Linked DNA regions of Homo sapiens: region 2 is linked to region 1. The links come from fine-mapping of genetic effects on gene expression. A gene starts in region 1. The other region holds a variant in brackets. All regions are shown on one strand. Distances are from middle to middle.

Evidence for each region.
Region 2: its variant is fine-mapped to the expression of SNX18 in whole blood (INTERVAL, PIP above 0.99).

What each region holds. Positions count from the first base shown.
Region 1 is chr5:54,513,130-54,521,472 of GRCh38, reverse strand. It overlaps SNX18 (sorting nexin 18), which reads right to left and starts at 3,714. Exons shown (of 2, transcript NM_001102575.2): 1 at 1,900-3,714. The coding sequence starts at 3,520. RefSeq lists an enhancer at 1,862-2,806 and silencers at 3,279-3,838, 3,719-3,960.
Region 2 is chr5:54,639,200-54,647,542 of GRCh38, reverse strand. It overlaps a transcript of SNX18 not described here. Among named protein-coding and RNA genes, the nearest start is that of LINC02998, 100 kb to the left of the region's middle. RefSeq lists an enhancer at 7,457-8,031. The variant T/G (reference allele first, on the strand shown) is at 4,151.

The sequences.
Region 1 (8,343 bases):
CCTGCCTCGACCTCCCAAAATGCTGGGATTACAGGCGTGACCCTGGCCATAACCAGATGGTTTAATAGACTAAGTAGACCATTGCTGTAAACTCAAAATAGATATTAGAACACACACCATACCTTTTCTAATATATAATTTCAAAAGCAGGCCATTTGACAAAGCCTGAGTGCATGGTGTGATTGACAGTGAATGAACTGATGCCAACCTAAAGTAGACAGACACCAGCGGCCCAGCACACATGTCCAAGTGTCTGTACTTGGTTCCATCCTTTCAACTGTTCACCAGTAATTTGCACAAACTCACAGAAATGTGTAAAAGGGCAGCCAGCATAGGTCCAGAATGATGTAACACAATGGAATTTAAATGCTAAATCCCTCCATTAAAGGCTCACAAAGGCAGTTCCACCAACACCAGTCAAAAAAGTCAAAGATTCATAACAATTTATGTTTTAAAAAAAGGCATAGGTAATGTAAATACAGGTTTAATACAGGCCAACAGCAATATGATTGCACAAAAAACGAATTCAATATTAGACTGCATTTACAAATCGCAAATTGCCAAGAAAGTTACTACTGTCTACTAAAATTAGTACTGATGTCCAGGGTACTCCCTTTCAGCGGCAGCAACAAGACTGAAAACGTTTGATCATTCTCCCAGCAAGCCCCTTCCCCCATAGGAGTCAGAAGACCAGTCACGCATTTGGAAGGGGAAGGAGAGAAGCAGAGAGGAAGGAAGCGAGACTGCTGTCTCCAAATGTCTGAAGGCGGTCCCAGGGAACAGAAAGACAATCAAGGGAGGCAAACTTCAGTTCAATACAAGAAAAGACATGCCAGAGATCAGGGTTGCTCATAAACGGACTGGCCCACCAGAAAGGCAGTGAGCACTTCACCAGTAAAGGCCAGACCCGCTGAGGAAACAGGGACAGTAGGTTTCCCTGCTCAGGAGTAGGTTTCCCTGCCCAGCCGCCCCTACACTGGACTTTCACAGGCAAGACTGCCTCCCTAACTCCCACACCTCCCCATTCTCTCAATCAAGGCATTATATGAGAATGCACATTAGTAAGAAATGTTAAGACAAGCACTACTGCTATATATTTTTTTAATTTGCAAATTCTGGTGCTTTAGCAAAGGTCAGAGACACTAACAACTATTAATAACTCATGAACTCTGATAGTTGGACAGCTAACTCACTGGGATACCAGCAACGCTGCTCTCAGATCCAATACTCAGATTATATTCATTCTATGTAGTTTCCCTAAACAATTTTCCTAAACAACGTTCTCAATTTCAGTACATTAATAGATTTCAAACTCAAAATGAGTACGCTTTTCCTGAAATTACTTCACTTCGTAAAGGTTGCAGGCAAGAATTCTTTGCAGGAATTTCTTAAACTCAGAGAATTGATCTTAATTCCTCTACCAAAGCAGAGATTGAGAGGTGTGGAAGGGTGAAAGCAGATTTCTATTTACAGACATCCGTTCTTCTCCATTATTTCCTCACTTTTTGAAACTCACCACTAAGTGACAGTGCAGTGTTCAAACAGATACCTAACATGGTTTAGGTCCCCTTCTAATTCTACCCTCGTCTCAAGATTACAGATTTGAGCAGCTCATTACTCAACTATTCAAACTCTAAAATGATAGCACTGTCATCAAAGGTACTCTTTGAACCTTCGAGAAAGAGTACTCATTCCCTAATGCAAGATACTCGAGGAGGAAGCTGCCTGTCGAGCAATCCAACTTACACTCTAGGGAAAAGACCCAGGCGTCCACGTCTCTGCTCGCTTCCTCACCTGTAGAATATGATTCTGAAACCCACAGTGGTACTGCTGTCAAAGTCGCCCCTTTCAGCCTGCACAATACACTCCATATCACCTGCTCTAAGGGCCAGGCTTTACCTTTCTGAACGTGGATGATGTCCGGGAAGTTAGCCAGATGCCCCTGATACAGCGCTAATAGGTCCATGACGGGATCCAGGTCCTGCCTGGGCTGCTCCGCGAAGAGCTCGCCAATGGCGTCATAGGCATCTCCGGTGAAGGCGATAGCCTGGTTCAGGCCCACCGAGAAGGCCTGCTGGTCCAGCTCAAAGGCCTGGCTGAGGCCGCGGAAGGACTGGCCCACCTTCTGATACTCCTTTTTGAAGCCGGTCACCTGCTTGCGCGCGAACTCGTTGGCCGTGTGGTTGAGCTGCAGCGCGCTGTCGTCCATCTTCTTGGTGAAGCACTTGAAGCCGTCGATCTTGCTCTCCACCTCCTGCAGGTCAAGGGCAGCGGCGGGGGGCGTGCTAAGGGTCAGGAAGAAGTTGGCGCCCACCATCTCGTCCTTCTCGGCCTTCCTCTTGCCCTGCTTCCAGGCTTTCTCGTCGGTGCTGCTGGGGCACGTCAGGAAGTGCTGGAAGACGTCGCACTGCGCCAGCACTGGGTGGCTGGCCATGTGGTTCATCCACCAGATCAGGCCCTTCCTGCGCTTAGAGATGAAGTCCTCCTCGAAGCGGCCGGTGGCCTGCTTCTCGGGCAGGTGGGGCACGGAGATGACCGGGAACTTCTCCGCCAGGCGCGCGTACAGCCAGTCGAAGTGCTTGTAGCGCCGATGCACCGGCACCTGCGTGTGCGTGGGCACCAGCTTGTAGGAGATGTAGCTCTTCATGCCCTTGAACTTGGTCTGCTTGGTGGGGTCGTCGATGGTGCACTGGAACGGGTAGGGGTTCTCCTGCCACTCGGGGCCATAGGGCCCCAGCACCACGCACAGCTTGTCCCCGTCCTTCACGAAGCCTGACGCCTCCCCCAGCACGAAGGCCTCCCCGCCGGACTTGACGAAGGTGGAGAAGCGATTGAGGTTGCGGCTCACGGTGGCCGAGCTCTTGGGCCCCGACGGGTGGTGCTGCGGGGGGACCGAGCCGCCGCGGGAACCCAGGGACAGGTCGGAGCGCGTGGACAGGCGGTAGCGGCCGGCTGCGCCCACACCCGCCGAAGACGAGCCGTCGAGGTCCGGGTATGCTCCGCTGCCCAGAGCGCCCGGCTCGTCCGCCACCGTGGAGCTGTCGTCCCACTCGTCGTCCCAGTCATCATCGCTGCCTTGGCTGGCCTGGTAGCCGCCGTAGAGCTGCTGAGGCGACGGCTGCAGGGCGCCCCCGCCGTACGGGAAGCCCGCGCCGGGCGGCTGGAAGGTGCTCGGAGGCGGCGCCTGCTGTGGCTGCAGCAGCGCCTGGAAGGCGTCAGGCGGCGGCTTGAAGGAGGCGGGGGGCGCGACAGGCAGGGGCTCGAAGCCCCCGGGGGGCACATTGGCGTAGCGGGCCGGGGCGCCCGGGCCGCCGTCTCCCGCCGGGCCAGGCTCGGGGGCGCGGATCACCTGCACATAGGAGGCCGGGAAGAGGCCGCGGTCGCCGCGGCTGTTGACCCCCTCGAGCCAGCCCTCGATGTCCTGCTCGCTGCACAGGCTCAGCACCTCGTGCTCTCGCAGCGAGATCTCTCCTGGGTTCTCCGACCTGAAGTCGTACAGCGCCCGGGCGCGCAGCGCCATGGTCCCGGCGCCCCGACTGGCGGTCCCGACTCCCGGCGTCCCGAGCCGAGGCCCACCTGAGGGGCCCGCGGTACTGCTCGAGCCCTGGCGCGCGGACTGGAGCCCCGAAGGCGGCAAACCCACGCTGCCCGGACCAGCCGGTCGCGCCCTCCGCGCGGCTCCGCTCGCAGCGCCTCCACTTCGCAGCGCCGACTGCCGCGCTGGGCCGCCGCAGCCGCCGCCGGTCGGGGGCGGGGCCCGCGGCCTCCCACGTCTCCAGCTGCGCTAATCCACGGCCGAGAGCCCCTTGCCAGGCGAGAGCAAGCGATGGCCGAGCCGCCGAGCCCACCGCCCGCGTCGGCTTTGCGGCGGCCACTGCCCTCTAGTGGCCGGTGCCGCGAAGCCGGGCGCCGTAGTGAGCGCGGCTGAAGGAGGTTTCTACTCCGAAGTGAATTATCTGAGATTTCTTTAGGCTTTTAAGTTAAACATTCTCTAGAAAGTAAGTTAGCATTTGCATGCCTGATAAACGTTCCCACTCTGAGCGCTCAGTGAATGCTCCTAGAATGGCAACCCAGTCATGTAATAAAGCATTTTGCAATGCGAATTAGTGATTGCACTAAGAAAACAGGATGCCTCTGCGGAGGAGCTGTTCACCTACAGAGCAGGCTCCCTTCCCTCTTCTGCTCAAGGAGAGGAGATTGGCAAGAACAAAGTAAGGGCCAGGGAAGGTGCTGTGATTGACAAAATTAGAAGCAAAGGATCATGTAGAGAGGGAGGAGCTGGAGAGTTTCCAGTACAATAAATGCTCACACATTTATTACATGCATGTGTCGCCTATCCTCCCATAGATATATGTAGTGCGGTGAATGAGAGCTCAAACTTCGGAGCCAGGCTTCTGAATTTCAATCTGTGTTCTGACACTACCTAGCTGTATGACCTGGAACAAGGCACTTATATCGTACCTACCTCCGGGGGTTGTTGTGGGGATTCCATCATAAAGTAATCCCTATTTTACAGATGAGGAAAGTGAAACAATATCTGGCAGGGTAAGCAGATTTGAAGGGTTTGTTGCTGCTTTTGCTGCTGTTACTGTTATTTGGGGGAAGCAAAATCCCTGGCCTCTTTCACAAAGGGAATAGGGGTACTAAACTAACAATTGCAGGGTACATGCACCAGGAAGCGTCCCAATGTTCACATTGCCACTCCTAGTAAGAGGTCAGTGACCATCCATCCATCTGTTGTCTCTATGTCTCACTATATTTATATTATTTTTAAGATAAATAGAACAAAAATCACTTCCTGAAATAATCAGCTCCAATCTATCGTTGCCTTGTTTCCTATCTTCCTTTCCTTCAGTGTATAATTTGCCCAAAGCTTTTTCTTCTCTTAATCCCCTCTTATTAAGTCTAGCCTAATTATTCCTTTGAAGACACTTCTAATTGAGGTTCTGCATTCATGTGTCATTAATTTCAGCCTGTCCTCTGACCCTTTTCAAGGAAACCTGGGAAACGGGCCAGAAGAGTGTACAATTATTCTAAGGGCTGTGGTATTGTAAGCATCTTGCACAAAAACACAAACCCACTATACCAGAATCACTCCCACAGTGTTTATCCTAATGCAAAACCTTAATTCAATTCAGTAAGCATATTCTAAATTACATTTTTAGCTGAAAATTCTGGGTTTTGACTATTCTCACAGTAAGCAACAGGGATCATTGAATTTCAATGCCAACATTTCATGTGGTCAGAAACATGAAGTCCACATTAACTAAACCTCTAGAATATGACTCATTTTACTTCTGAAAAGCTAACCTAGAATATGTAAGATAAATAAATTTAGTTTCGCCCCTTCTGTTCGTTTAGTAGTTACTTTTTAGATTAGAGTTAAGTACAGTAACTTTGGGCTTATTTCAGGTGTGAAAATTCCAGGAGTTTAAGGTGATGATTTTTTACAGACTGGTTGAGCTACTCTGTAGAAATGGTGGTTGAGGAATTATTGGGTGTCCAAGGTTGTTTGTAGCACTGGGGCATGGGCGTCTGCAGGTGCTTACTTTGTAGGAGTCCAGTGGGAGGCCTCTGTGCTTGCCGCGCATCAGGCTTCCAGAAGGATGAGGACAGGCTGTCATGATGTTTGGCCCTATGGCCACTAGTGGCAGGAAAACCCCTACCTCTAGAGGGTCTTAGATATGTAGAAAATTGTGCTCCAGTATTAACAACCTATAACTGTTCACTCAGGGAAATAGATACAGTAACACATTTTGTAAAGATTTCTCTAGAAAATGGAGCATATTATTCACAGTTTAGTTTACACAATCATTATAACCACCCATATGCTTCTGTAAAGTTTTTAGGGGACACTAAATGACCCCAAACAATTGCATTTTCTTACTTCCTCCCTTGGCCTGAGAGGCCTTAGATAGCCTGGCCCTTGGCTATCTTTCCAGCCCCCTTTTCCACTGAAAGAAGCCACAGTGGTTGCTTTGCTATTTTTGGGACAAGTCAAGCACGTTTCTTGCTGAAGTTTTTGCCTTCGCTTTTCTCTCTCCCTGGAGCCCTCTTCCCCGGGAGATCCACCATGCCACATCATCGCTTCATTCGGTCAGAACCATGGGGCTTTCCATCCCTCCTTTCTTCTCCTTCCTTGGAGATACCGGAAGACAGAGGGAGCCTGGGTCCCTGAGTCACCGACCCCAATCATACTTTGTGAGAGAAAAATCCTTTGTCCGACTAAGCCACTGAAATTTCAGAGATTGCTGAGGCAGCTGGTACTAATTATGCTAATATAATCTCCCTCCCTCCCTCCCATCCCCTGTCCATCCCACAGTCTCACTTTTCTTTGTAGCAACTATGACCTAAGATAAACACGTCTATACATTAACGGCCTCCCCTATTACAACATAAACCTTTTCAGGGCAATGAGGTTTTCTGAGCACTGAGGATATAGCAATGAACAAAACAGACATGTTAGGCAACCAGTTAGTATTTGTTAGATGAATGAAAGAATGTCCACTTACATCCTCCCTAGATGAAGTCAGCTCTCTCCAGTAGCTCTTATTGTGTCTGGGTCAGCTTGCCTGGTGCCCTCTGCCACCCAGCTGTAACTGTTTCTAAGGCAGCTAAGTAACACTCCTCTTTAAATCAACAACGTTAAAGGTAACACAACCACCCAGAACACCACTGCAAATTTTCAGATTGTTAGAAATTTCACTATTACAGAGTGGGTCATTATTAAAATTAACACTATATTTTACTTGAAAACACTCATGTAATGCATCAAGCATTACACAAATATGTACATATGATTTTAGATGCACTTACACCTTTCCTGTGTTATTTCCTGCCGTATTTTCACACCAACTCATCCATGCATGGAGCAGATATTGCCATCCCCACTATCCCAGATCAGGACAGCCAACTGCAGAGAGGGTCGTCTGCTGAGGTCAGGTGACTGAGGAATGACCCAGCAGCTACTCAGCTGTCCTGAGAACTTCGGTTCACTGTGTCACAGGTCTGCACTCTGCTGGCGCCTCAAAACTACTACTATTATTAAACAGCATCCAGGCCCAGCACAGTGGCTCACACCTACATATATATGTTTTATGTATATAAAAATTTATATATACAATTTTTTATTATTTATATATTATATATTATATATATTTTATATATAATATATAAAAATTTATATATACTATATTAAAATTTCTATATAATATATAAATTTATATATATCATATATATTTATATAATATATAAATTTATACATATGATATATATATTTATATATTATATAAATATATATATCATATATATTTATATATTATATAAATTTATATATATCATATATATTTATATATTATATAAATTTATATATATCATATATATTTATATATTATATAAATTTATATATATCATATATATTTATATATTATATAAATTTATATATATCATATATATTTATATATTATATAAATTTATATATATCATATATATTTATATATTATATAAATTTATATATATCATATATATTTATATATTATATAAATTTATATATATCATATATATTTATATATTATATAAATTTATATATATCATATATATTTATATATTATATAAATTTATATATATCATATATATTTATATATTATATATTTATATATTATATAAATTTATATATATCATATATATTTATATATTATATATTTATATATTATATAAATTTATATAATATAAAAGTTTATATATTATATATAAATATATATTATATATAAATTTATATATTATATAAAAATATATAATATATATAAATTTATATATTATATATAAATATATAATATATAAATTTATATATTATATATAAATATATATTATATATAAATTTATATATAAATAAAAATTATATAGGTATACATTTTATACATATGCGTGTATATATGTGTACACACACATGCGTGTGTATATGTGTGTACACACACATATGCACACACGTATATGTAATATTGTTTTATACTTTATATATTTTATATATTATAAATAAAGTAAAATGAAGAGCAACAGCCATTTACTAGAAGGTTTGTAGCTAGGCTTAATAGAAAGCCTGGCTCAAGCCTGCACTCCCAGCACTTTGGGAGGCCAAGGTGAGTGAATCACTTGAGGTCAAGAGTTCGAGAACAGCCTGGCCAACATGGCAAAACCCTGCCTCTACTAAAAATACAAAAAAATTAGCCATGCATGGTGGCACACACCTGTAGTCCCAGCTACTCAGGAGGCTGAGGCACGAGGATCGCTTGAACCCAGGAGGTGGAGGTTACAGTGAGCCAAGATCATGCCACTGCACTCCAGCCT
Region 2 (8,343 bases), 130 kb before region 1:
TGCTTATAGTTCCCAAACCATGCCAGGCTATGTAATATCTCTTTGCCTTTGCTCCACAGTCCTCTTTCCAGAATGCTCTGTTCTTTCCTCTCCTCTAGGTGAACACCTCTATACTTTTCAAAACTGAGATCAAGCATCACTCGTTAAAGAAAACTCTCCTGGGTCAGGTGTGGTGGTTCATGCCTATAATTCCAGCACTTTGGGAGGCCAAGGCGGAAAGATTGCTTGATGAGATGAGACAGAGATTTGAATTTATAGCCCAGTAAGGGCAATACGATCTTTTTCCTGCGTTTTAACTGTTGCACTCGGCATAGTACTCGGCATGTATTTGGCACTTAGTAAATGATTATTGAATAAATACAGATGTAAATGATGGTCTAATTCAGAACACTATATTGTTAAATATCCTGAATATATTTATTTAAGGCGTAGTTTGCAAACAAGCCATGTATTAGAACATCAGAATTTCACATGTGACAAAGCACGATCTGGTTCAGTGAGCCAAGTTGGTAATCTCCAGCCGATGACGAATTGCTCTTGAGACACTTGTTACAGGCAGCCTCAGGAAGAGGCACAGGCCATTTATACCGCTTCGAGCCGCCAGTCCCAGCTCTCTTGGAGAAAGGCAGCACAGCTGGGAGGGCTCACAACAGGAGGCCTGTTGAAAACAAGTCGTGGTTTCACCCTGTGTTTTGATTTCTGTTCAGGGAAGGGCACTTCCTCTTGCATTTGTAGGAGCCAAGTAACACATTCTGGGTGGAGGGAACTATGGTAGAAAGCCTAGTGTTGGACACATGAAAAGGTGGCAGCATCTTAGAACTGGCTAAACACATATCTTGGCATAAGAACTTGGGTGGCAGGCAACCAAGATTTGGGGAGTGCTTTTCCTGCATCATTTTCTGCTGGGATTGCAATATGAGGGAGGCCTTGTTGATGGGTGTAGTTTGTTATGGTTGGCAATACCTTCTGGTTAGTAGTGGTTGAGTGCTTGCTAACTTGTGAATTCTTCAGAAGAGAGTAGAATATAAAAAGCCTTCAAGCCTCTCCTGTCTCCCCCGCAATGCGGCTAACGCAGGGCAACCGGCAGCAGTGAGCTGTGGATCCAGGCACTGGCTAGAGAAGTTGACAGACCACGAACACGGGGCAAGCTGAGTCTTTCTGTTTCACTTCCGGCATGTTTTTCACCCACAGGGATATTTTGGTCTGTTTCAAAGAAGAGGAAATCAGCCCCTAGCAGAGTGTTTCAGAAAAGCAGCAGAAGAAAAGAAAAAAGATTAAAGCCATATCTCTTGGGGAGAGAGATAAAAATCTGGATTTTGTTTGAAACAATGTTTCCATTTCCAACACCTCAGGTCCATAAAAAGTAGGAGAAAAAAAGTCTTCTTGGGGTTTCAGCATGCACAGTGCATTTATTCTCTCTCTCATTTCTTAATTTGTCAGTTTCTTTCGCCAAGTACCAAATCCAGTAAATGTTCTTTAAATGGAAAGAAAAAAGCAATAATGAATGCCAGAAAAGTTTCCCAACCAGCCGGCCAAACCACAAGTATCCAAAAATGTGATTTCATTTTTAATAATACAGAAAACTGAGGAATATCAAGTAGAAATATAAAGAGAGGAAAAACATTGACTTATTCTAAACACCAATAAAAAGGATTTCCAACTTCAGAATGTTTGTAGAAGACATGAAGAGAAATAGCTAGTCAATGAAGGAATTCAGAACCCGGTGTTCACAAAATTAAGAAGATACTAGTGATCAATGAACTCTAAACACTCATATGGGTTTGCCTTCTCTGAATCCTTTGAAATTCACTCTCTATTCGGTGTCCAAATTTCCTGTATATGTAAAATGGAGCCAAGGAGCCCACATTGTGAACAGAGAAAGTAAAGATCGTGTAGGATGAAGACATTCGTGTTGTAACCTGTGTCTTTTATGCCAACTCTTAGAATTTAAGGAGCAGCTGGGGAGGCCAGCAGGCTGACTTAAGCCCACAAAGGATGGCCTCTGATCCCTGAAACTGGGGGAAGAAGCAAGATAATTCTTAACTACTCAGGTGACATCTCTTCCAAGAAGTTTTCTCTAACTTACTCCCTAGCCCAGGAGGGAAGGCTTAGACCCCTCATCTGTTTTCCCGGAACACCTGGGCATAGCTCTTATTGCATCCAAACGGTTCTTATAATGCAATGCAACACAATACACAGTATCTATATGTCTCCCTTGTTAGACCATGGAGTCTAGAGCAGGGATATCTTTACTTCTCTGGTGCCAGGTATAGTGGCTGGAACATCAATTACCTAATTGACATGAATGCTTTCTTTCTTTGTATCCAAATAACTCAGGGCATTTTAGTTGTTTTATCCTATGGTTATATCATTCTTACCATGTTTTAGTACCGGCAAATAGAATTCATTATTTCCCAGGATATATCAGTTAATAATTTCATAAACAGAGAAACTAACTACATCTGGAGCAGTGCTTCCCAAACTTTACTGTGCATGCAAATCACCTGTGGATCTTGCTACAAAGCCGATCGTCACTCATTTGGCCTGGGAAGGGGCCTGAGAAGCTGCCTTTCTAACAAGCTCCCAAGTGCTGCCAATGCTCTTGGTCCATAAAGTAAGAGTGGCTTGAGCCAGATAGAGTTTAATTTTGTTTCCTGAAAGTTAAGTCCAGAGATTAGCAGTCCAGAGCTTGTTTGGCAGTTCTGCCACATCATCATCAGCCCAGGCTCTTCTATCTTTCTGCTTTACTATCCTAGGTTCTGTTTACCCCAAGGTCTCCCCTTGTCCCAAGATAGCAGCTGCTACTCTAGCCATCACACCTATATTGTAGTCAGTAGAGAGGAGGACACACCAGGGCAAATGGCTGACAGCTGGGTCAGCCCCTTCTAAAGGAGTTGTCAGGAGGAGCCCATCTGACAACTTTCACTCCTATCTCACTGGCCAAAATGTAGTCACCTATCTAAAGGAAGGCTTGAAATGTGATTTTCCTGTTGGGAATATGTTGCTGATTACAACGAATTGAGTTTCTCTTAGGAAGAGGGGGAATGAATGCTGGGTAGATGCCAGCAATCTCTACTATGAGTCAGATGAGATTGTTGTGGATCACCTGTTACTCACCCGTGGTTAGTAACCTCTGGATTGTGCCCCATTCCTGAAGAGACACCAGTTACTCTGTTAAGGTCCATGCGAAACATCAGCTGTCTTTGTGACAAGTTCTGTCTCATAGGCTCCTTGACTGTACTTACTGACTAAAGCTATCATCACTCTTGGCTGTGAAACTTGAAGTAAGATGAGGGGACCAGAACTTCCTACCCTCGCTGCTGCCTCTTTGGAATAACATTAATTGTCAGAGCTTAGTTTGGCCCAGGCCTTATTTGCATCCTTGGGCTCTCGGATGCCAGGGAAACATGGCTACTGTGACAACAGATGAGATCCTGGCTCAAGGATGCTGGCAGGGTCTCTAGCTTATTGTCCCTAAGGTTATGGCTTATAAATAAGGGAATGAGTCCAAAGAGATGTGCTGTTCTTCTTGCTTGGTGCCAATCAGTTCATTCCTTGAGTAACAGTGGAGTCACCCAAAGTGAAGAAACAATTCCAGCCCACTGATTTCGGCCTGAGCACTCACGTTTTTTCCCTGGCTCTTTGCCCAGGATTTCCAGGGAGAAGGCAGGGGCCAAGAAGCAATATACATTCCTGAAAGGAAGGCTTCTTGAGTGATTAAAATGATGGTATCAGTCGGTGGCTCACAGGCAATGACAGAGAACACAGGCAGGGTGCCCTCTGAGATGCACCCCCTCATTTCCTGAGTCATGACGTGGAAGACAGGGAAAGTGCACATCAGCAACAACAGGAAAGGAAAAGGTAGTTGTTTGTTTTCCTTCCGTTCTCCTCCCATCTCAAGGAATTGATACCTCCAAAATTTCAATCTGAGATAACAAAAACAATTTGCAAATAGTCAATAAACAGTGCATTCATTCATTATTACTAGAACTACATTCATGGAAAATAATTTATATAAACTAACCAAAAGTCGTTTTTTAAAAAAGGTAATATGATTTATTTAGATGGGTTCAACCATCAGATTTTTGGGGGGAGGAGGGTAATCCATGAATCTATTTGTGTGCTAAGTATTGCTATAAATTGAATGTGT[T/G]TTTCACATCTATTTATTACTATTTTTCAAGTCCTATAGATGCAGTTTTGATTAGTAAAATGCAAGTTTATTTTAAGATGTGACTAAATTTTTATCTGAGAAAATACATTATGGCAAAAAGCAATAACTGGATACTAAAAATATAATGACCATTATGTGAGAGTATGTAGAATTCAAGTATTAAAAAAAGAAGTCCTCCTACCTGAACATGTTGGTGTAACTGAGCCCATATTCAGCTGCCCACTGCTTGAAAGTGAGCCACGAGAAACGAGGTTGGGAATGCCTTGTTATCCCCCCTCCCTTTATAGTTTAGACACAACAACAGCATTAATGTTAAAATAGAGATCATGAGACTGGCAGCACAGCCTGTGGCTATAAGATACCAAATCATAAACAGGACCTAAGGCCATGCCCGGCAAAGGTTAAGTCTCCACCCCAAGATAAACGTGTGTTACATGCATGTTTGTTCAGTACACATGTGTCAAGACCACCTTCATAAATATTTATAGCTACTTCTGTAACCCATTAAATATGTATGTTGAGCTGATCTATCATATACCCACAGGAGCCCTGGATACAATTGACAGTAGGGAGCAAATGTATTGATTTTCTTGCTGATATGGTAGGCCATTCCAGGTTTCTGCCCTGGTGTGAGAACCAACCGATGCTCTAAGAGATTTAACAATTGCCAAATATGTTAAGACGCTAGATATTATACTAACTTTTGTTTATAAGTTTGCTTCCAGCAGAATCATTTTTCCCATGGATATGGACCTGCATCCTTTTCAACTAAGAAATAGGTCCTCCTAAAGACCTGGAAGGAACAAGGGCCTGAACATCAGCTCACTGCCAGGTCAAAAAGTTTCATTCCACAGTTGCCCCACGTTGACCCTGTTTGGCAAGAAGTAGCCAGCTGAGAGATGACATCCCATTGTCCCTAATCCCACAAAATTGTGGAATGAGCCTTTGACAGTGGGGAATTGTAGCAGTGAAACAGCAAAAAAAAAAAACCCAACATAACTAATTCCATTTTTATTTAAGGGGCCTACACCCATTCCTGCACGTTTGCTAGGGTAATTTTAGAGCACTGAGATAATATACAAAAACAGCAATCAAATATTTTGTAAATCGAACTCTGGGATTAAAGAGGAAGTATATAAACAACTAATTATGTTTTGTTAAAGATTTACAGGAGCATTGTGACCCGACCAAGGACAAAAAAGTTCCCAGCCTCCTTCTCTCAGACCTTTCATGGTTCCTGATAGTTGGGGAATGATCCGCTGTGCTGCTGCTGTAGCATCAACGAATACATATACTTCATCAGCCTCCTCCATTTCTAATCTTAGTACTCAGGTCCGTCTCTCAGTCCCAGAGACACTGTCAGCCTTTTATTATAAAATCACTGTCTGATTTTTCAAGAAGTCCTTGAATAGCTCTTTAGTTAAGTAGATCTAAGGCAAGTAGCCACCAATCGTTTTGAAAGAAGTATGGAAGAGAATATTTTTGACTCAGCAAGGAACTGGGGCATGGCTGCTCTTGGTGGGAGGTGATAGGCAATGCTGCCGCGTTGCACCTCCCACCCGCACACGCATACATACACACATTCAGCACCCATGATTTTACAAGGGGCTAAGGAGCCTGCAGGAAAATGAGGTATAGCAAAGCGTCCTCCTCAATGTGACTCTATAGTTTCCCTGTCACTTACAGAATAATTCTTCTCAAGGGATAAAAATTTTTGTTGTGCTGTGAGAAATAGTAGATACTCAAAGCTCTTTGAAAACCTTTGTGGTGCACTCTCTGTAGTGCACGCTCAAAACCCTGAGTGCAGTGCCCTAAAGGTGTTCTTCTCTGTGGGTGGCTAGGTTTGTAGGAAGATCCCCAGCCTTCCCTCCACCACTCCTGGCAGAATGGCTCCAGCCCCATCCCACGCCAACTTCAACCAGAGAGCTCCTGTTTATTTTATGTGCTGAGATTCCAGACATAATTCTGTCAGTTTAAAAAAAAGACCTCTTTTAAATGCATTTTTGAAAGCTGCTGGTCTCTTGTATCCACTGAATTTGGGGAATATCACACACATACACATATAATATGTAATAATACAACATCTATGTAAAAATTTATCAGGATATGACAACAATACTGAAGCAGCAGTGGGTGGTGCACAGGTCACACCTGTGAAAGGATTGTCTTGCATTGTTCTGGCCTGACTCTGGTGAAGAACAAGGTGGTATCGAACCCCTGGGTGAGTCTCAAGAAAAGAAACAGAGTTACGGGACCATGTCAAGCTCTCAGAACTTCTGTATACTCCTTCCTGATTTTTTTTTTCTTTTTATGAGACAGATTCTTGCTTTGTCGTGCAGGCTGGAGTACAGTGGCACAATCTCGGCTCACTTCAATCTCCACCTCCCACATTCAAGCAGTTCTCCTATGTTAGCTTCCTGAGTATCTGGGACTACAGGCATGTGCCACCACACTCAGCTAATTTTTGTATTTTTAGTAGAGATGGGGTTTAACCATGTTGACCAGGCCGGTCTTGAGCTCCTGATCTCAAGTGATTCTCCCACCTCGGCCTCCCAAAGTGCTGGGATTACAGGTGTGAGCCACCACACCCAGCCTCCTGATTTTTTTTTTATCAACCTGATATGGATAGATTCCCAAGTCTTGATTACCCCATCCCCTTCTATTGAAGAGCCCTAGGAGAACCCTCTTTTGAGTTGCCCCCACAAGCTCTTTTACTCATTATGATGGTCAAAGAGAGGTTGTAAAGGGTGCACGATTTTATGAATCCCTTTTTAATCTATCCAGATGATCTCTTGCTGGGAATTACTATTTCGTCTTGTAGGCCAGAGCGTAAGATGAGACCCTACTCTGGCGGGCACAGTGGCTGATGCCTTGTAATCCCAGCAATTTAGGAGGCAGAGGTGGGTGGATTGCTTGAGTCTGGAGTTTAAGGCTAGCCTGGGCAACATGGCAAAACCCCATCTTTTTTTTAAAAAAAAGAAAGTACAAAAATTAGCCAGGTGTGGTGGCACATACCTGTAGTCCCAGCTACTTGGGAGGATAAAGCAGGAAAGTCGCTTGAGCCTGGGAGATGGAGGTTGCAGTGAGCCGAGATAGAGCTACCGCACTCCAGTCTGGGTGATGAGAGTGAAACCTTGTCTTACAAAAGAAAAAAAAAAAAAGAATCTATTTCTAGACAGTGATGAACTTTATTCCCCCATGTCATGGTCCTTGTAGCTTAAGGAGGTATTTGAGGTTAGGCTTCTCTGACCCTTTGCCCATTCTGCCAGGGGATAAGATATTGGACACCACACTGAAGTTAGATGTTGAAAATTGAGGTCCATAATCCCCGTATGTTCAGTCTCATTCACTTATCAAAGAATATTTCTAACTGGATCCCCAACAGAATCCTTACAATGGAGTGCCATCTCCATTGGCCTCAGGAACTGATGATTCTTTTAGTCCTTTCCTTATAGTGCGTGGGCCCACAGCTTACTTTCACTCATTGCCCACCTGGCTTTTGCTGATACATAATGCCCTTGCATAACCTCCTTGGTCAGCCTAATCACTTAACCCCAGGAGGCCCCTTCAGAAAATCTGCAAATCGCTTCTCTGAGTACGCTTGAGCGTAGCTTATTCAGGCCTAGATAAGCTTTGTTTCTTCAAGACAAAGCTTGTCCCTTTTGCTTCCAGCATAGACTCAGGCCATAGGACCCAAGTCTGAATTTTGGGTGCGTAACTTACTTTGAGCAAGTTACTATTTCTGGTCCTCAAGATTCTCGTGAAAAATAAAGATTAAAAATAGTCCTTACCTCCTAGCATTGTTTGAGAGTTAAATGAGTGAGGGCATTTTATACATTTAGACTATACTTGGCATATAATCAGCTATCAATAAATATTAGATAATATTATTTTGGCAAGAACTGGAAGTGACATTGGCTTTACCAAGTTCATTTGTCCATCTGTTCATTTGAAATGTATTTACTGATCCCCTATGATATGCCAGCTATTGTGATCAGCCACAATTAAGAATAGCCACTCCATACATTCTACAAATACATGTATGGATTCTAATGCATTGCTTTTTCTGAAAAATTTTTTTTTAAAACATGATACACCTTCAAAAAAACTGGAATTTTAAAATGCTCATGTCCCTAGATTGCTGGTTATAAACTATAAGTTCTCTGATTGGG